4 linked regions of the Homo sapiens genome follow. The protein of the gene in region 2 interacts with the protein of the main gene of each other region in a biochemical or structural test. Each region holds a gene or a part of one and is shown on either strand. Other genes may lie near its edges.

Region 1 (5,299 bases), on a different chromosome or scaffold from region 2:
CATGATGATCTGTTACCGAGTGTACCTCGGCCGGGGCCACCTCACTGCATCCTCCTATCGACCTCTGAGGAGATCTGCCCCAGCACCGTCTCAGGCAGGAGGATACCAGGAGAGGGAGGTCGTGTGCCAAGGTCATCATCTGTGTGCTGAGCCCACCAGGCCTCCTGTGGTCCTATCCGGAACTCTTTCTACGGGCTGTGGGGTGGCAGCAGGGGCTGCCCGTGAGCAGAGGCCTTGACTTGACCTCAGCTCCCCCATCGTCCACACCCCAATGACTGGGGCTGAGGCTCCACCGTGCAGAGCACGCCAGCCACTGAGCCCATAGCTCCTGGATCCTCATAGCCACCCTCTCCCCATTCTACAGATGAGGCAACTGAGGCTCAGGAAATGAAGACCACACAGCTGGCACTGAAATCCAGCCCTGTACGAGCCCAGGGTGGGCCACGCTGTTCTGCCCTGACCCTCCCCCAGACATCCCACCCTTGCCCACCTAATCCATCACCCAGTCCTCTCTATCCTGCCTCCTGAATCTCTCTCGGGTCTGCTCCCTCTCACTTCTTCTTCCACTTCCAGCCCCCAAGTTCAAGTCACACCGCCTCTTGCTCCAATTCCTCCCACAGCTTCCACCAGGTGGGCAGGCAAGGCTCCTGCTGACATTCCAGAATCTGCAGGTACCTACGGTGACGCCTCAGGGCCTGGCTACTTACCAGGTGCACCTGTCCAACCCAGAGATGGGCGAGACACCCTCGCCCACCACACCCAGACCCATGCCCTCCTCACTATCCCCACCGACCTCAGCCTTCTGCCAGCTCTCATCAGGATTGCTTGGAGCAGCTCTGTCCTGCGCCTGGCTGCTCTGCTGACCCCCAGGAGCCCACTTCATGCCGCTCCATCCCCAAATGCCTGCACCCTCCTGCTCACTCTTATAGGGTCCGGAAGCCTCAGAACAGAGACCACTAGAGCTGGGAGGACCTGAAGGGTCATCTTGCAATTCTCTCCTGGCTTCTCCCTCCACTTCTTCTTCTTGCTCTGGGGCAACCAGAACCCCTGAAGGTTCTGGGCCTTCCACTTCCCTGGCCCTTGACATTCTAGCTTCACAGATCTCTGCTGAAAGCAGAGCACTGTGGGTTCCTCTCCTGGTCCCACATGGCCACATATGTCCTGCTGCCTCCAGGAAAGAACCAAACCTCCTCACCTGACAAGGACCCTCCTCAACCTGGCTGGGACCTGCCCGTGAAGGGTCTCATCACCCCCTAGCTCCCTGCAAAGCCTTCCCCAGAGTTCTGGCTACATCCTAGTCCTAGGCCTTTACTTCTGCCCCGTCCTGTGCCAGGAATCCTTCTTGCTTCCTACTGGCTCATGAAACAAGGCTGTGAGGGCTGACTCTGGGCCAGGCTTTGTGTGGCAGGATGGGAATACAGGGGAAAGAGAGAGATCCAGTCCCTGCCCTCAGAGGTCAGGAGGCTGGCTCTTCAATCAGCCTTCAAGATTCTGTGCAAGAACTCGGCTTCTCTCTGCCATGCTTACATATAAGACTAACGGGTGGCACTTACTGTCCTAGATGCCATGTTGGGGGTGTGCATATGTAATAACATCCTACAGGCCAACTGGACCAAGTGATGAGAGAGTAAAACAACAGCCAATACTGACCGAGTGTACACTCTGTGCTGGGCCCTGTGCTACCACAACCAACAACAGCAATGACAGTGACCACTAACAATGACAGAACATTTACCGATGCCAGGAGCTGTTACTCCCGCTTTACTGTATTAGCCAGGAGTCCTCACAACTACCCTGTGAAGTGGGTCTTATTATTCTAATACTAATTTTATAAATGAAAAAGACTGACAGCTGGGGGCGGTGGTTCATGCTTGTCATCCCAACACTTCGGGAGGCTGAGGTGGAAGGATCACTTGAGGCCAGGAGTTTGAGACCATCCTAGGCAACATGGTGAAGTCCTGTCTCTACTAAAAATACAAAAATCAGCCAGGTGTGGTGTTATGAGCCTGCAGTCCCAGCTACTTGGGAGGCTGAGGTGGGAGGATCACCTGATCCCAAGGAGGTTGAGGCTGCAGTGAGCTATGAACACTGCACTCCAGCCTGGGTGACAGAGCAAGACCCTGTCTCAAAAGAAGAAGGAGAAAAAGATTGAAGCCCAGAGATGTTAAGTAACTTGCTCAAGAGCACATAGCCAGGACGTGGCAGAGCTGCATAGCAACCCAGGCTGTCTGGGCATGGTTGAGAGATGGGTTGTTTGGAGTAGGGACAGCCCAGGTTTGGGGACTCTGAGAAAGGCATCAGACACAACTTACTGCAAGAATGGAAAAGTGTTTTTTTTTGTTTTTGTTTTTGTTTTTTTGAGACGGAGTCTCGCTCTGTTGCCGAGGCTGGAGTGCAGTGGCACGATCTCAGCTCACTGCAAGCTCCACCTCCCGGGTTCATGCCATTCTCCTGCCTATCTCCCGAGTAGCTGGGACTACAGGTGCCCGCCACCATGCCAGACTAATTTTTTTGGATTTTCAGTAAAGACAGGGTTTCACCGTGTTAGCCAGGATGGTCTCGATCTCCTGACTTCGTGATCCACCCACCTTGGCCTCCCAAAGTGCTGGAATTACAGACGTGAGCCACCGCGCCCGGCCAAGAATGTAAATGTTTTATATTCCCGCTGTCAAAGATGGCAGCCACCAGCTAAAGTATGACCAGTGCAATTGAGAAACCAATTTTTGATATTATCTTATTTATTTTTGAGACAGGGTCTTGCTCTGTCACCCAGGCTGGAGTGCGGTAGTGTGATCTCGGCTCATTACAACCTCTGCCTCCTGGGCTCAAAGGATCCTCCCACCTCAGTCTTCTAAGTAGCTGACACTACAGGCGTGCACCACCATGTCCAGCTAATTTTTTTATTTTTTTAGAGACGGGGTTTTGCTATGTTGCCCAAGCTGGTCTCAAACTCCTGGGCTCAAGTGATCCTCCCGCACAGGGTGGGAGTGGCAGCCAAACTGGACAGCTTTAGACAGGGCTCTGCAAATGATGGCCTGCAGGCCAAATCCTCCCAGATTTTGTAAATAGTAAAGTTTTCTTGGCACACAGCCATGACCATGTGCTTGCTTACATATTAGTTATGAGTGCTATCCAGTTACAAAGCAGAGCTGATAGAGACTGCATGGCCCACAAAACCTAAAATATTTACCATCTGGCCTTTAAAGTTTGCCACCTTGGTGCCAGACTGCAGAGGAAACACAGAACAGAGCAGGGAATAGCTTCCTCCCTTAGGTCAGAATTAACTCACTATCTACTGGCACTCACTACCTCTTTTTTTTTTTTTTTTTTGAGATGGTGCCTCACTTTGCTGCCCAGGCTGGAGTGGAGTGGTGCGATCTCGGCTCACTGCAACCTCTGCCTCCCTGCCTCAGCCTCCCGAGTAGCTGGGATTACAGGCATGCGTCAACACATCTGGCTAATCTTTGTATTTTTAGTAGAGATGGAGTTTCACCATACTGCCCAGGCTAATCTTGAACTCCTGACCTCAGGTGATCTGCCCTCCAAGGCCTCCCAAAGTGCTGGGATTACAGGCGTGAGCCACCGCACCCTGCATGCACTCACTACCTTCCTGACTGCTCTCTCTGGATCCACCTATGTTTATGACTCAGGCCCCTAGTGGATGATATTACTATTGACAACACTTCCCACAGACTGAGGGCCTACTGTGCAAAATCCATTGCCTTATTCCCTTGAACCTTCACAATGGTCCTTAGAGGATGCCCATTTTACAGAGAAAGCTGAGTCTAGGGGAGGTGACACGAGTCCCCTCCCAAAGGTCACAGAGTTCACAGAGGCACAGCTACTACCTGAACCCATGTCTGCCAGCCCCCAGGCTGGGTCCTCTGCCCCTACCTGGCTCACCCTCAAATGCCAGATGGAAAAGAAAGAGAATGGCTGCTGTGAAGGTCAGGGTCAGGTCATGCACTGGCGTTTTTGTGTTGGCCAACACCACGCCTGGCAGCTGAGCAAGCTGGGGTGAAGGGTCTGATGTGACTTCTACAAAGGCTCACCTGGGAGAAGACCCCCTCCCAAGCCCCTGCCCTCGCCCTGCTCACCGTTGATCAGCTCCAGGGCCTCCTCCTTGGTCCGGGTGATCTTCTCCTGCCGCCAGGACGAGGGCCGCCGTGACTGGCTGTGCTTCACCAGCAGGTGCGAGCAGCGGACCCTGGCAGGCTCCCCCTGCCCGTTTTTGCCACCACTGCTGCTGTTGCCGCTGGGCCGCTCCCACTGGCTGGCGTTAGTGATGTGGTTGAAGTAGTACACTCGGCCTGGAGGGGAGGGCAGGCAGGAATTCAGCTAGGGTTGTGCTCCCAGGACACCCCTGGGCCCACAGCCAGAAGCCAGGGTGAGGGCCTGGCTTGCAGGGGGCGCCTTCATTCAACAAATCCATGGTGTATCCACCATGTGCCACAGGCTCTCCAGACGTGGGCCAATGTGGCAGGATACAGTCCCTGCCCTTAGAGAGCTAACATTCTAGGTGAGAGCAGACAGGTGCTAAACAAGCAAATGAAACACAGGATAGTATCAATCCCTGATAACTTCAAGGAGGAAAATAACCCAGAGTGATGGAACAGAGGAAGCTGGGGGACAGGGAGTGACTCAAACCATGCACTCAGCAGCCAGGCCACCTGGATTCAAATCTGAATCTGGGTTCAAATGTGATATATCTTCCCTGGGCCTTGGTGTTCTCACCTGCAAAATGGAGATAACAGTTCCTACCTTAGGGTCATTGAAAGGACTAAATAATAATTTTTAAACATTTTTAAAAGGGCTAAGCACGGTGGCTCTCACCTGTAATCCCAGCACTTTGGGAGGCCAAGGTGGGGTGGATCACCTGAGGTCAGGAGTTCAAGACCAGCCTGGCCAACACAGTGAAACCCCATCTCTACTAAAAATATAAAAAATTAGCCCGGCATGGTGGCAGGCACCTGTAATCCCAGCTACTGGGGAGGCTGAAGCAGGAGAATCGCTTGAACCCGGGAGATGGAGGTTGCAGTGAGCTGAGATTGTGCCACTGCACTCCAGCCTGGGCAACAAGAGCAAAACTCCGTCACAAACAAACAAACAAACCAACATTAGCCGGGCGTTGTGGTGTATGTCTGTAATCCCAGCTACTCGGGAGGCTGAGGCAGGAGAATTGCTTGAATCTGGAAGGTGGAGGCTACAGTGAGCCAAGATCATGCCACTGCACTCCAGCCTGAGCGATAGAGTGAGACTCTTGTCTCAAAACAAAAACAAAAACAACAGGCTGGCTGGG
Region 2 (5,299 bases):
CCTGCTCACTAGGGGAGACTCTCCCATTCTGCCCCCAGGCCCCACACCTTGGCCTTATTCCGCAAATTAGGATAACTGGGTGTCGGGGGAGCATAGAGAGGGACAGTCACTGGAAAAGACTTAGATTTGCTTGGAAGAGAAAAGGAAGGGGGACAGAAGAAAGAAGATGGGAAACAGAGCCTTGAGCCTGCGTGTGAGGACCGGGAATCAAGGGGGAAAGCTTTGCTATGCAGTGAGAGATGCCAGGCGCCAAAGAAAAGGGGAAGAAGGACTGAAGAAGTGCTGCTGGGGTTATGAGCTGGATTCCCTTTAATGTTCTTTCAAAAGATGCAAGTAAATACTGGGATTTATTTCTTTATTATACTTGGTTAATGGACATTGTTTCTTTGAATGCAAAACTGTGTTCAGGCTGAGCCTCGTGAGAGCCAGGATTTTTTCAGGATATACATGCAACTTGGATACACCTGCAATCTGGCTCATGAGCTACATCCATCTCACTCCCCTTCCTCATAGATTTCACGGCCTGAGCAGGTCAAGTGCATTCTAACTCAACACAGCAGGTCTAACAGTCGTCCCAAGCATGCTCAGAGGAAGTGGCTGGATTGGCATTGTAATCACACTCCAAAAGTCCAGGAGGTACATCAGGGAAGATCCAGCCTCTCCCCTCCTCTGCGGTATTACACCCTGGTATGAAAATGTCACCTGCATTCAAGACTGCCACATCTATAAACAAATGAGCAGCATTCCTCTACCACAGACATGCAATGAATCCCCCGATTCAGTGGTTCTTGACTTTGGTTAGGCATTCATAGCTTTAAGAAAAAACTGAGGCCCAGGCTGCACCCAAGACTGATTCGATTAGAATCTCAGGGCGTAGGACCTAGGAATCTGTAGTTGGGAAAACTCCCCAGTGTACAGCCAGCTTGAGAACAATTGTCCTTATCACTGATTCATTCCAGGTTTGCTCATCAGCCAAACACAAGCCAAACTCTGATAGTCAGCATCCAGCCTCTGGAAGATACAGAACATCTGACATTCATGCTTATCAAGAGCCCTCAAGCTCCTGAAGAACTTTCTGAGCACTTAAGCATCAGCTACAGCTGGGATCAGTTTGGCAAGACACATGCATTGCTATCTTTCTGCAGACACAAAACCCCAGCTCTTGCAAAGCCTCAAAGACCCCAGGAATACTGCACATGTTATGAGTGAACTGGACCATAAACTCGGCCAGCCTGTGGCCTCTGCTGCCCTTCTGCCTAGCTCCAGCCTCTTGGCCAGCACCTCCGTTTCATTTTCTCAGATGCACACTCACCAGTGCCACGGCCCCTCCCCTGGATCAGCCATTCCCCACAGGCCTCCCTTCCTCCGCCGTCACCACTGCCACTTCTGCCACAGGCTGCCCCCTCACCTTGGCCCCCTCCTGTTGCTGCTGCCACCAAGGCACCGGAGCCAGTAATCTGTCACAAGAGTGGGTGAAAACACCTATCTTTTCCACTTTGGATCCTAAAGCAGGGGCCCCAGGGCAGGCGCACTGCTGACCCACTCTGGCAGTTTTTAAGCAAAGTCCTCACCCCAGGTACTCCACAACCAGGCCTGGGGGACTCACTGCTCCACCCCATGACTATGCCCTGCTGCCTCTCGCTCCTTCTTGCACAAACAGTCTCTCACTGAATCCCTAGGACACAGGTGAAGCTCAAGGGAGGGGTTCCTAAATGCCCTGATACACTTGGAAAGTAGTAATGTAGCAGACCAGTATTCTGCAACTTTCCTCACTGCAAAGCTGGATATAAGCTGCAGAGCTGGGGAGGATGGGTTAGGTGGGAGCCGGGATCACCTTGGGAATATCACCCCACCCCCTCCAAGCTGGGGAGTAGGAATTTGCAGTGGTGGTGCTGGGTGTACTCTGGGGGCACCAGGGGTCTGGAAAGGGCCCAGAAGTTGGGTGAGAAATGCATAGGGGGGACCTAATTTGTTGGGGTTTTAAAATATATATTTTCTAAAGTTTGGGACTCCTATAACAATTTTTAAAACCTGTGTCTTAAAGCTACATACACAAAAGCAGCGGTCCTCTGGCTCTCTCCCCACGTCTCTAGGCCTGCTCTCTAATGTGAGCTCCTAGGTATTTAATTCATCATCACCTGAAATGTGCTTTTACCCCCTCCCTTAATTCACTGTATAGCCCCTAATGACTCCTTGCTGATAGCTGAGCATTACATACTCCCCGCCCCACCCCCAATATTGCTGGGGTCCCTCTACTTGATTCTCCATGACATCTGGGGACACTGTTGGCACTCCAAACCTGTTCTCCACCTTTCCTTCCCAGGCTTCTGCCTCTACCCAGGGTCAGTGGTAGCTTTAATTTTACCAAGATTATGGGATGGAAAGAAGTGCCCAGATTTCAGAGGAATTTACACCCTAGAAAGACAAGACTCAATAACTGGTTGGATGTGAGGAATAATCAAAAGGGGGGTGCCCTGGGTGGCTATGGGGTCTTGGCTTGTGCAACCGGGCAGAGAGTGGGGCGAGCCAGTGAGACGGGAGGAGAAGGTGCTGAGTTTGAGGTACCTATGGGCATCCATGCGGAGCTGTTGGAAGGTCACTGGCCATGCTGGTCTGGCAGGCAGGTGCGAGTGTTGGGTATCAGCTACCCCTGGGCAGTAACTGAAGTCAGGGGCGTGGCTGAGAGCACCTGGGAGAATACACAGACTGAAAAGAGGAAAGGGCCCAGCAGCAAACCTGCAGGAGCACCACAACCAAGAAAAAACAGAGCCTGCAGAGGAGAGGGAGGAGTGCCCAGAGCTGCATCCGAGCAGGCGATCTTTCCAGGAAAGACCGGGCCCAGCGCCGGTCAAGAATAATAACGACTAAACGCGACACTGCACCTAGAGGCACAGAGGCCACCCTGGTACTGGCGGGGAAGCGCAGGAGGTGGGGTGAAGAAGGGGCAAGGAGGGGGCTGAAGTGTAAACAAGGAGAGCAGAGGAAGGGGAGCCGACAGCTGGAGAGAGAAGTGGGTGGAGTTTTCTGAGATGAGAAAGACCTCATTCAGGGTGTTTAGTTCAGAAGGCAGTGGATACATTAGAAGATGCAAGAGAGATGAGGAGGAGGAGTGAGGCTCCCAGGGGGTCAAGGGCTGGGGCCAGGACACAGGGTGAGTCCTGGAGGCAGGTGGACATCCCTTCCACCCTAACGAGGGCAGGGAAGGGGTGCGATGGGGATCTGTAAATAGCAAGATGTCAACTGTCCCTATGCCATTGGAGAGCTCCTGTTTTCTCCCTGGAGCAGAAGGTGCCGCCATCAGCTGAGGGTGAGGCTGGGACAAGGGCCCAGTGAAGAAAGGCAGGCGGGGGCTGCCCTGCAGAGCAAAAGGACATGCTGGGCGGAGCACCAAGGAGCCCTTAGCAGTCACAGGCAACCACTCATAGTTTTCCCAGGCCTTTCTCCTGCAGATCTCGGTCTCCAGGTGGCAGCACAGAGGCGACAAGCTCCTGAGTCCTTCCAGGATTTTCTGCTGGGCAGGGAGCTGCAATTCTGATGAAAGATGGGATGAAATGGGGAGTGCGCGGGGCTGGAGGGAGGCGAAGGTAGGACTGAGAGCTCAAGGAACAGGAGGCTGCGGTCAGAGTCTGAGAGGACCGGCTGAGGGACCGACAGTGCTCGGTGATGGCAAGGTGCAGGGCACGGCCACGGGGCAGGCAGCTGTCTGGGGGAATGGGGTGACAACCCCTGAGAGGTTAAGGAGTGGCGGGCAGGTGGGTGGAAATAGAAGTCACTCAGGAGGAAGGCAGGACCTGAGCAGGGAGAAGAAATCTGGGAGGTGAATGCTCACGTCTGCCCTCAATGAGGGTGGGCAGGTGGGTGTCTGGGATGAGCTGGGGAGCATGGGGCCCACCCTGAGAGGGACAGAGGATCTTACCAGACGGCCAGGAAGGGGCTGGAACAGTCCAGGAAGCAGGGGGCCTTGACCCTACCTCCCACCTCTGATGCCCATGAGTGTGGGAGGAAGAGGGGACATGGTATCCCCAGAGGAGAACTGAGTTCCAGCATAGGGAAGAGAGAACAGCCTGCAGGGAGGAGCTGGATCCATCGGAGAACGCGATGGTCGTGGAATAAGGGTTCGCAAGGGTGATGGTTCAACAAGTGTTTATTGAGCAGCCACATCTGCCAGGTCTTGGGATAGCCAGTCCCTGTGCTCATGGGCTTAGATCCTGGCAGAGGCCTAGTGGAGAGGCTTGGGGTGGGGGTCGGGGCATGGAAGGCTGTGCTATTGGCCAGGGACTCAGAATACAGGAGAGTGCAAGGGTGACAGAAGTTTCTTTCTTGGGCAAAGAGGCCTGGAATGGTGGCTTGAATCTCAGCCATGCCTTAGCCTTCCCCTCTCAGCCAGAGAAGACCCAGGTCTCCCTGCCCAGAGGTCCATGCATAGCCATTCATTCGTTGATTCATTCCTTAACCAAGAATTAATGAGTGCTACTCTGTGCAGGGCCTGTAAGAGCATGGGCTGGAGGAGGCAGCTCAGGGGCCGGGCAGGGGTGTTGGCTGCAAGGTTACAAGAGAAGGGTAGCACTCTCAGAGGCCTGCTTGACGGGCGCCTGGGACTGGGCTGATGGGGGGCCTTTCTGGGGCACAGGGTGGTGGGAATGTAATTGGAGAGGCTTCCAGAGGCACTTGGACTTGAGAGGCCTCCATGGAGCCTCTGACAGAGTCCCCAGGGGGAACACCTGCTCCAAGAGTCTGGGCTCTGCTTTCCCCTGCCCCCACCACGGAAGACATGTCAAGCTGGGAAGCCATGGAGGAGAAGGGGAGGGCAAAAAAGTTGTTGAGCCACTGGGATAAATGGGAGGAGCCCCGGAGGGAGCGGCTGCGGGATCGCACAGCCCCTCGTATCCGGTGGGGTGGGCTGATGCCCCTTTGCAGCTGGGCAGGATGTTCCTGGGCATTGGCAGGATGGTTGAGGGGCCCTGTGATGGCAGGAGTGCTGGCTTGGACCACATGGGGAGACCAAGTCCGAATAGGGGCCCGATGCAATTGAGGGTGCAAGCGGAGGGCATGGCGAAGGCGGATGGCTCTCTGTGCTCTGTACAACAGGTAGCGGATCCCACGGTGGACGGCAGGGCGCTCCTGGTGATCAGGAGGCTCGCTGTGAGGCTCAGCATCGGGGGTGGCAGCCTGCTCAGCGGGCTGGTGGGGAGGCCAAGCTGGGGGGTGGTATGTGCCACAGGGCAGGCTGGAGGCTCCTTGTGCTCTCAGCAGAGACTGGACTGGCGAGGAGTGGGCTGGCGAGGAGTGGGCTGGCGAG
Region 3 (4,685 bases), on a different chromosome or scaffold from region 2:
CTTAAAACCTGGGTATGTTCCTAAGGTCATTTCTTTGCTTATGCTAAATTAATTACAATTATGAATGGAGGATATTCTACTGTACTTTTTTAAAAAGAAACTATTTTTGTGTTTGAAAGTGAAACCAACATCCAGATCTATAGCAGAGTCCTTATTCTTCTCATAAATCTTTTTACTTTGGCTACAAATAGATGATGGTATGATTCTATTATATATTTTATATAAAATCCATCCAAATTAAGTTTTGGGTAAGTGTGTTGTTTAATCTGAACTATAGTAACTTAATACTCTAAACAATAGTTCACTCCATTTGGTCCTTTCTCCACAGATGTAATTATGTTTTCAACTCAGGAACTATGGCAAGGAACTTTCCCCAGATCAAATTCTATTAACGCTGAGATACAAGTCATCCATGCACAGCCACTATCATACCCTTTATTCTCACTGAAAGGCAGAACTCAGAACCTGTTATTTTATGTCTGTAATCATGTACTTTGGCATCTTTTGGAGGAAAGGGGCAGGATAACTCACTGGAATGTACAGTATTTTGCTAGTGCATTTCAAGGAATGGAATCTTCTCCAGTATGAAATTACCAGATATAAAATAATGTAATGATGCTGAGGATATAAGCTTTTAGAAGGTAATTTGATGGTATTTCTTTCTCGAATGAAAAGCTGCTGGTTTACCCTCAACCCTATTCATTAGCATTACCATGAGTGAATTTATATCTAATTATTTCCACTTGCCCTGTTCTCTTCACACCAAGGAAGCTCCAGATCCAGTATCTTGTTTGGCCTCAAAACAGAAGCAGCTTCTTTTGTCTCCCAGCAGTAGTGAGCCACTCAGTCTCTTCCACAGGAAGTTTGGAGCCTACATTCCTTGAGTCAGGAGCTTATTACAGAAAAACCCCGTTTCCCTGAACTTTTGGCTAACAGAAATTAATTTAACTGACATGCATATTGATTCTGAAATTTTTTTCCTAAGTTTTTTTCATTTTTTTGAATGAGTTTTTTAAATTTTTTAGATGACCAAAACTTGCAGGGCAGGGGATGCCCAGAAGAGTGGTGAGATAGTAAAACACTTATTCCCTCATCCTTTCAGGTTTTCAGGTTGCCCATTTATATTCATTTACATGTCATTTGACTGTCTCACTTTTTACCCAGAACAGTAACAACCCACACCGTCTTCCTTCAGGGATTTCCAACTGGCACTCTGTGGGTGCTACACAGAATGCAATTTAATGGATATTTCTCAGCCTGGTTCAGAATAAATTGATCCTTTGATCCCAGAAAGTATATACTGAAGTGTGGGATAAAGATTATGATTAGGGGAGGGTTGGAGACAAAAGCTGTAAATTACTATGGCTGATTTATTTCTACTATATACATATATATTTTTTGCTTTTGTATATCCTATATAGGAAACTAAGCATTGTATTTTTTTTAACAAATCTAAAAAAGCACTATGAACTACAGGTGTTTGACTTTCAAAATATATTTTGTATTGTTAATATCTTCACATTGTGTGAATACTGGAAGCTGCAGATCTTTGCTAGGACGCAATAAATTTATATACTTTTTGAGGGGTTCTTCTGGGGTGCTAATCAGGCCCCTGTTATGCTTAGGGGGAGCCCTGGTGCTACTTGCTTGAAGTTTTCAGTGTAAGTACCCTGATGCCTTTTGGACCTTGGGATCAGATCAAGAGTTTTGGAGATCAGGTACCAAGGAAATAAGGACAGTCTAGCTGCCTCAAGTGAGGGGCCCTTTGCATAGCTCTCCTTCCCCCTCACTGAAGCTGGGTAGCCTATTGGGGTTGAGAGGGAAAATGTGAAATCTCAGAATTTATCTCCCTTAGAAGAGAGCCAGTAACTTATGTACAAGGATGAAAGAAAGGTCGCAGCAGTAGCTTTGGGGAAAGGGAGGAAGATATGGCACTTCTCCAACCCCGGAAAACATTGCTTTTGAAAACTGCTGATAAAATATGAGCCGGTTATTACTTCTGTTTGGGAGACTGTGCTCTCTGTGGTGCCTCTCTTGGCTCTACTCCACAGATACCAGACCTCTTCTAAGAGGATGAGCAGACCAGCTTTGAGGTTGACCTGTTTCTCTTTGTCTGCCTTCCCAAAACACCAGCCCCCAGGAAGACATTAAGCAGCCTTAAGCTTAAATTCCTACTCCCTCTTCCAAATTTGGCTCACTTGCCTTAGATCCAAGGCAGGGAAAGGAAAAGAAGGGGGGTCTCTGGCTTTATTACTCCCCTAAGTCTTTACTCTGACTTCCCCAAACCCAGAAAGATTTTCTCCACAGTGTTCATTTGAAAGAGGAGTATTTTGTCCCATTTTCCCCTTCCTCATTATCAAACAGCCCCAGTCTTCCTTGTCTCTGCTAAGAAAGTAGAGGCATGATGATCTGCCTCTCAACTGCCCTAAGTCCTAGCTAAGTATCAGGGGAAAAAAAAAAAAAAAAAGCCTAACAAATGGGATTAGACTAGGGCTGCAAGTAGTGAGGATTTTGTTGATACCTCTGCTGGGATGTGTGCTTTCCCATATCTTGCCTTCAGGAATTACACTGTGCCTTTTCCCCAGGGATATGGGCTCTGTCTACCCAGTGCTCCAGTTTCCCGGTAACTGCTCTTGAACATTGTGGACAAGGGCAGGTCTTCATATTTTTGATCATCCCTTTCTCCCAGTGAAATCCCATAGCCCTTACCTAGAGTCTAGGGCACAAAGACTTCGGGGAAGATACACTGAGATTGACCTGAGGAGACATCTACACACACCAGTGGCAGCTGCCCCAGGGCCTGCTTCCCCTTCCTAAGTCTGTCATCCTCTGGAAGGGATGGGTGGTGCTCCAATCTCTGGTGCCTAAAAACCCAAGTTTATTTCTCTCTTAACACTGGCAATAACCAGTCCACACCACTGTTGCCTTTTAAAACCTCTTAATAATCTCATGCTGTGTTTGTTTTGATTCCAATCCAATTATCACCAGGGCTGTGTGGGTAAATGCTTTTAAATGCTCTCTCATCTTGTTCTTCCCCCTCACCCCCCACTCTTAGGTATGTATGATGCTAATCTTGTCCCTAAGTAAGTTTCTTCCTGCTCCTTTTGTATCTTCCTTTCTTGTCTTTCCTCCTACCTTTTGTCTCTTGGTGTTTTGGGACTTTTTTTTTTTTTTTTTTGGCCTTTTGTACAAAGATTAGTTTCAATGTAGTCTGTAGCCTCCTTTGTAAACCAATTAAAAAGTTTTTTAATAAAAAACCATGTCTCTGGTGTATTGAAGAGGGTTGGGAATGGTGAGAGTGTACGTTTGTAACTTCATACTCTGAACCTAACAAAGGTTTCCAGCTACACTGTGTTGTGCTCCATACATGTTAATTAGTGCAATTGCCCTATATTTAACTCCCGGGTAAATGGTTTCATGACCAGATCAATGTGCCACAACTACACGGAAATGTGGAGGACCAAGACAAACAGGCAACACTAACTTTATTTTTTTTCTCATATGCTTTTTTATTTTGGAATAATTTTAGATTTACAGAAAAGTTGTAAAGCTAGAACAGAGTTTCCATATAATCCTTACCCGTTTCCCTCATTGTTAACATATTACCATGGTACATTGTCAAAATTAAGAAACTGACATCGTGGCCAGGTGTGGTGGCTCACGCTTGTAATCCCAGCACTTTGGGAGGCTGAGGTGGGTGGATCACGAGGTCAGGAGATCGAGACCATCCTGGCTAACACGGTGAAACTGTCTACTAAAAATACAAAAAATTAGATGGGCGTGGTGGCGGGCATCTGTAGTCCCAGCTACTTGGGAGCTGAGGCTGGAGAATGGCGTGAACCCGGGAGGCGGAGCTTGCAGTAAGCCGAGATTTCACCACTGCACTCTAGCCTGGGCGACAGAGCAAGACTCCGTCTCAAAAAAAAAAAAGGTTTGTCTCTTCTCCCTCATTTGTTTAGTCAATTTATATTAGTATGTATTAATGTGTATTTATTTTATACATGGATTATAATCCATTACTATTTTGTTGCTCAGATTTTCCCAGCTACAGTCATTGTTATCTTTTGTCAGCCTATAAGCATGTTCTGGCTGGGCGCGGTGTCTCACCCCTGTAATCCCAGCACTTTGGGAGGCTTAGCTGGGTGGATCACTTGAGGTCAGGAGTTTGAGACCAGGCTGGCCAACATGGTGAAACACTGTCTCTACTAAAAATACAAAAACGTAGCCGGGCGTGGGGGCAGGTACCTGTAATCCCAGCTACTTGGGAGGCTGAGGGAAGAGAACTGCTTGAACCGGGAGGCGGAGGTTGCAGTGAGCCAAGATCACGCCATTACACATTGCCTGGGCAACGAAGCGAGACTCTCAAAAAAAAAAAAAACATGTTCAAGTATTCCCCCTTCCCCCATTTTAAAAAACCTCAGCTTCCTCTTCAAGCTACTGATTAGTTTTTTCCATTTCCAAAGTTAGTGAAAGTAGTTTACACTCATTTTTCTCTTCCTTTATTGAATCCTCAGGCTACTTTGTGGGTTTGCTTTTGTTTGTTTTTTTTGTTTTTGTTTTTTGGGATGGAGTCTTGCTCTGTCACTCAGGCTGGAGTGCAGTGGCACGATCTCAGCTCACTGCAACCTCCACCTCCTGGGTTCAAGCAATTCTCTTGTTTCCGCCTCCCAAGTAGCTGGAATTAC
Region 4 (5,299 bases), on a different chromosome or scaffold from region 2:
TTTGGGAGGCCAAGGCAAGTGAATCACTTAAGGTCAGGAGTTTGAGACCAGCCTGACCAACAGTGGAGGAACCCCGGTTCTAATAAAATAGAAAAATTGGCCAAGCTTGATGGCGGGTGCCTGTAACCTCAGCTACTCTGGAGGCCAAGGTGAGGCGGGAGAATCACTTGAGCCCGGGAGGTGAAGGCTGCAGTGAGCCGAGATCCAGCCTGGGCACCACAGTGAAACTCCATCTCAAAAAATTAAAAAAGCAAAAAGTCAAGCCCCAAGCAGAAGAGCCCTGTAAGACGTATCGCTTGAGGAACTTCTGCGAAGCAGTCGCCAGGAAGCAGCCTGGGCCGAAAGGGGCGCTCAGCGGTCACCAGCAGGCGCAGCGTAGCACCACGGAGTGGCTGCCGTGCACCTCACCCGGTGGCTGGAATCCGCCAGCGACGCAGCCTGCGTGAGCAGCCTGGAAGCAGCACGGCTTGAGGGCCAACACCGTCACCCCACATTCCACAGCAGCGCGCTCACGCGTGTTCGCACTCAGGACAGCCACGCAGCTGCTGGTGTCGCCCGTGTGCTCCTGCGGTGTGGGATGGTCGCGGTGTGGGACGGTCTGCGGTGGTGTCTTCGCGTTCCCCAGGGAGTGTGCCCTGTGCATCTCCATGGTACCTGAAGTCCAGGAAGCTGCCTGCGGATGTTGCAGTTGGGATTACGGGGCAGATGCAGTGGTCGGTAGGAGCGAGTGTTCGGGGAAGCTGTAGGTGTTCGTGGCGCGTTGGCTTTCTGGTAATTCCTCCGGCTGCACTAGACATGCCGCACTGTGTGTCCTTCCGTAGCATTGAGAGAGAAGAGGGAGGATGCCCAGGTAAAAGATGGGAAATAGCCTAGAATATCAACTGTGATGGTCCCTGGTGGGGCTAATGGTGGCAAACTTTTCTGCTTTTTTGTAAAGAAATAACACAGGGTCCTAAAAGCCCGTATATCCTGGAAGCAGAGGGTCTGCGTCGGAACAGCCGACTCTGGAAGGGCGTTGGCTATGTCCCTGGACGTCTCCTGCAGCTCCTCCCATCTCCCCTGAGTCTGGCCCAGCTGGAAAGGATGTGGGGGCCACAGGTTAAGTGGCCACCCTGGGGCCTGTGTTCCCAGACTGCCTGGCTGTGCTGGGAGTTCTGTCCTGGGAGAGACACAGCTTCGTCTCGGCTGCGGCCGTGTCCCCAAGGCTCTGTTCCCTGTGTGCAAAGGTGGATATGTCTTCCTTTAGTCTCCTCATGGCCACAATTTAATTTTTTTGAAAAGTTTTTGGCCAAATAACCTGGCTACCAACCCGGGGCCCCAGTGTTGGGAGGAGGGTGATGTGGGGAAGGACGTGACTCTGGGACAGTGCCTGCCTCCAAAAAGTGCTTCCTTTCTTCCTCTTCCTCCAGGTAAATTCGAACCACCATTATTTCACCCGAATGTGTACCCTTCGGGGACAGTGTGCCTGTCCATCTTAGAGGAGGACAAGGACTGGAGGCCAGCCATCACAATCAAACAGGTACGGGGCCTCCGCCTCTGGCACCGGCAGGGCTGCCTTAGTCTCCCCTCCGGACACGTGGGTCTGTGGTCATTCTCTGTGGCTGAGGCCGAGTCTCACGGTGTCTCCCTTTCAAACTGCTCACACCCGTCTTGTGTTTTTGTCTCTGGCACAGATCCTATTAGGAATACAGGAACTTCTAAATGAACCAAATATCCAAGACCCAGCTCAAGCAGAGGCCTACACGATTTACTGGTTAGTAGCAGCCCTGGCCCCGCTGGTGGCAGCTCCTCCCCGTCCCAGCCAAGGCCGCCTGGCAGGACGGGAGTGGAGGACACAGGCTCACCCTACGGACAGCCAGGGTCCACGCCTCTGTGGGGAAGGTCGGGGGGCATAAACCCTGTGGGCAGCAGGCACCGTTGCACACCGTCTGCGGTGGGCATGGATGGCGCCGGAGCCGTGTCCCGGGGAGGGAGCAGGCCAGGTGACGGGCTGTCTTGGGCCACTGCCCCAGTGAGTTGTGGCCAGCTAGGAGGGGAAGGACCCTGGGCGTGGGTGCCAGAGGAGGCCATGCTGAGAGGCCTCTCCACCGGCTCAGCCTCCCATGGACCCCAGCCTCCCGCGCCGCCCTTGCTGCTTGTCCCCATCCCCTCTACAACTTGGTTCCTTCTGTGGGGGGGCCCAGCCCAGCAGGGCTCAGTGACGTGATGCTGTCACACGGACCCTGGGCTTCCACCCTGTCCCTGTGAGGTGCTGCTGTGGCTAGAAGGGTCCCCGTGGGCCTGGGGTCCTGTCTGCACCGAGGAGGGCCTGGTGTGAGTTAGGATGCAGACGACAGCCAAACAGTGCTGGGGAAAGCAGGGAGGACCCTGCCCTGAGCAGAGGCCATGCGCCCGCCTGTCCTGTTCCCTCTGCAGCTGTTCTGGGCAGGTCCATAAGAAGGTGGGTTGGGGCCTCCGACCCCCCACTGCTCCGCCTGCAGCGTTGAGAAACCCAGCCCCATCTCACCACGGGTCCCCACACCTCTGAGGGGGTCTCAGGGCCCCCAATGGCCAGGGACCCAGAAGGCTCACCTGCAGCCACCCCACACATCCCTGCCACTGTGGGCATCAGAGGCCCTCTCCCTCCAGGGTGCATCTCCTGGTCAGGAGGGGGGAGGCTGAGGGGTCCCGGTTGCCTTAGGCCCGGCCTGCACAGGTCGTGAGGAAAAGCACCTGGTTTCGGCCGGGCGCAGTGGCTCACGCTTGTAATCCCAGCACTTTGGGAGGCCGAGGTGGGTGAATCATGCGGTCAGGAGTTCGAGACCAGCCTGGCCAACATGGCGAAACCCTCGTCCCTACTAAAAATACAAAAAATTAGTTGGGCGTAGTGGTGGGTGCCTCTAATCCCAGCTACCTGGGAGGCTGAGACAGGAGAATCACTTGAACCCGGGAGGCGGAAGTTGCAGTGAGCCGAGATCCTGCCACTGCTCTCCAGCCTGGCGACGGAGGAATGCTGTCTCAAAAAAAAAAAAAGCACGTGGTTTTGGAGAGATGTGTTTCTCCCTGGATGCGGGCCCAGCCCAGGTGTCTGCAAGGTGCCCTCCCTGGTGGCCGAGGGTGGCACAGAGGCCCCAGGCAGGGAGCAAGTATCACAGCAGCCACCCCAGGCTCAGCCTGGCTCCCCTGCATGGTGGTGCACACCTGTAGTCCCAGCTATTTGGGAGGCTGAGGTGGGAGGACTGCTTGAGCCCAGGAGGTTGATGCGCAGTGAGTTGAGATTGCAGCACCGCAATCCAGCCTGCTTGACAAAGCGAGACCCTGTCTCAAAAAAAAAAAAAAACTCATAGCCGCTCAGTCAGCCAAGCCATTGCTGGAAGTGGCTCGTGGGACGTGGCGTGACCTGGGTTTGTGTGCTGGCCTGCTGTGCCCTAGGAGTCCGTGAAATGCATTCCCTTGGACAGGAAGCCACAGTGCTCGTGGGTGTCCACATGGCCCTTGAGGCAGAAAATGTTTTCTTTTTTTTTTTTTTTTTTTTTTTTAAACAGAGTCTCACTCTGTCGCCCAGGCTGGAGTGCAGTGGTGTGATCTCAGCTCACTACAACCTCTGCCTCCTGGGTTCAAGTGATTCTCCTGCCTCAGCCTCCCAAGTAGCTGGGATTACAGGCACCCACCACCACACCTGACTAATTTTTGTATTTTTAGTAAAGACAGTGTTTCACCACGTTGGCCAGGCTGGTCTCGAACTTCTGACCTCAGGTGATCCACCCGCCTCGCCTCCCAAAGTGCCGGGATTATAGGCATGAGCCACCGTGCCTGGAAAATGATTTCTAGGCCAAGTGTGGTGGCCCAACACCTGTAATCTCAACACTTTGGGAGGCCAAGGTGGGCTGATTGCTTGAACTCAGGAGTTCATGACTAGACTGGGCAACATAGCGAGACCCTATCTCTACAAAAAATTAAAAAATTTGCCAGGGGTGGTGGCTCATGCCTGTAATCCCAGCACTTTGCAAGGCCACTGTGGGACGTTACCTGAGCCCAGGAGTTGGAGACCAGCCTGGGCCACATGGCAAGACCTGCTCTCTTTAAAAAAAAAAAAAAAAAAAAAATTAAGCCGGGGATGATGGTGCATGCCTGTAGTCCCAGCTATTTGGGAGGCTGAGGTGGGAGGACTGCTTGAGCCCAGGTGGTTGATGCTGCAGTGAGCCAAGATTGCAGCCTGGGTGACAAAGTGAGACCCTGTCTCAAAAAAAAAAAAAAAAGCATGCCGGGCGCGGTGGCTCACGCCTGTAATCCCAGCACTTTGGGAGGCCAAGGTGGGCAGATCACGAGGTCAGGAGATTGAGACCATCCTGGCTAACACGGTGAAACCCCATCTCTAGTAAAAATAAAAAAAATTAGCCGGGCGTGGTGGCGCACACCTGTAACCCCAGCTACTCGGGAGGCTGAGGCAGGAGAATGGCTTGAACCTGGGAGGCGGAGCTTACAGTGAGCCGAGATCACGCCACTGCACTCCAGCCTGGGCAACAGAGCCAGACTCTGTCTCAAAAAAACAAAACAAAAGGCAAATGTTTTCCTGCCTAGCCCTTAGATGGTCTGCCATCCCCAGCATGGTGTGGGCGTGAGCTCTGTCTGGCCTGCACCCCATTTGCCGACCATCTCCAGAGCTGGGCTGTGGCTCCCATCTGCGGCGTGGGCTGGGCAGGGTTGCAGTCCCCCGCCCCGTGTGACTCTCCCCAGCGTCTCCTGGGCTTGGTGCCTGCTGGGCTGCACTGTACACTTGCGTGCACGTAAACAAACGTTCTTTCTCCTACACACATCCGCTTGAAAAGCACCCTTTGTGAAGCATGTGTGCGGGTTTCAGATCGTTTTTCCTGGGTTTCCTGGAGGCCTTGGACCGTGTTCCTGCCCTGGCAGGTGCCTTTTCTCGGGGCCTCTGCTTGGTCAAGGAAGAGCTGGGACGTGTAGCCACCGCCTCTGGTTCCTTCCACGCCCACCCAGCTGAGCTGCTCTGCCCTGGGGCCGGCTGGTGGCCCAAGGAGGGCGCTGGGGTCTGGGCTGCGGTCCAGGCCCTTGGCGTGGGTGGGGGTGGCACCGGCGCTGCTGCCGTCCTGGGCTGTTCCACCATGCAGAGTGAGGCTCAGTGTCTCAGACCAGGTCCAATCCTGGCGAGACTGGCAGGACTGCGACCCCAGGAGCCACCTCCATAAATGTCATGGTGTTCCCCCATCCTCAGGGTCACACTGCACCCTGTGACCCATCAGCCCCTAGGTGCAGCCTCGGCCGCCCTCCCGCCCACCTGTTTTGCCCGGGCAGTGTGTGC

What was found. The genes of interacting proteins can lie anywhere in the genome.
Region 1: the proteins of PML (region 2) and PIN1 form a complex in vitro, tested with the Homo sapiens proteins (2 studies listed by BioGRID and IntAct).
Region 3: the proteins of PML (region 2) and SP1 form a complex in vitro, tested with the Homo sapiens proteins (2 studies listed by BioGRID, with this or other methods).
Region 4: of the proteins of PML (region 2) and UBE2I, one has a biochemical effect on the other in vitro, tested with the Homo sapiens proteins (13 studies listed by BioGRID, with this or other methods).

Annotation. Positions count from the first base shown.
Region 1 is NC_000019.10:9,837,447-9,842,745, reverse strand, and holds part of PIN1 (peptidyl-prolyl cis-trans isomerase NIMA-interacting 1), read right to left. Parts: intron 4,735-5,299; coding exon of another isoform or gene 4,671-4,734; intron 4,311-4,670; coding exon 4,098-4,310; intron 1-4,097. UniProt on the Homo sapiens protein: Peptidyl-prolyl cis/trans isomerase (PPIase) that binds to and isomerizes specific phosphorylated Ser/Thr-Pro (pSer/Thr-Pro) motifs.
Region 2 is NC_000015.10:74,035,222-74,040,520, reverse strand, and holds part of PML (protein PML), read right to left. Parts: coding exon of another isoform or gene 4,570-5,299; exon of another isoform or gene 4,515-4,569; coding exon of another isoform or gene 4,461-4,514; exon of another isoform or gene 4,127-4,460; intron 1-4,126.
Region 3 is NC_000012.12:53,413,190-53,417,874, forward strand, and holds the end of SP1 (transcription factor Sp1), read left to right. Parts: 3' UTR 1-3,257; downstream 3,258-4,685. UniProt on the Homo sapiens protein: Transcription factor that can activate or repress transcription in response to physiological and pathological stimuli.
Region 4 is NC_000016.10:1,318,765-1,324,063, forward strand, and holds part of UBE2I (SUMO-conjugating enzyme UBC9), read left to right. Parts: intron 1-1,409; coding exon 1,410-1,519; intron 1,520-1,673; coding exon 1,674-1,753; coding exon of another isoform or gene 1,754-1,895; exon of another isoform or gene 1,896-5,299. UniProt on the Homo sapiens protein: Accepts the ubiquitin-like proteins SUMO1, SUMO2, SUMO3, SUMO4 and SUMO1P1/SUMO5 from the UBLE1A-UBLE1B E1 complex and catalyzes their covalent attachment to other proteins with the help of an E3 ligase such as RANBP2, CBX4 and ZNF451.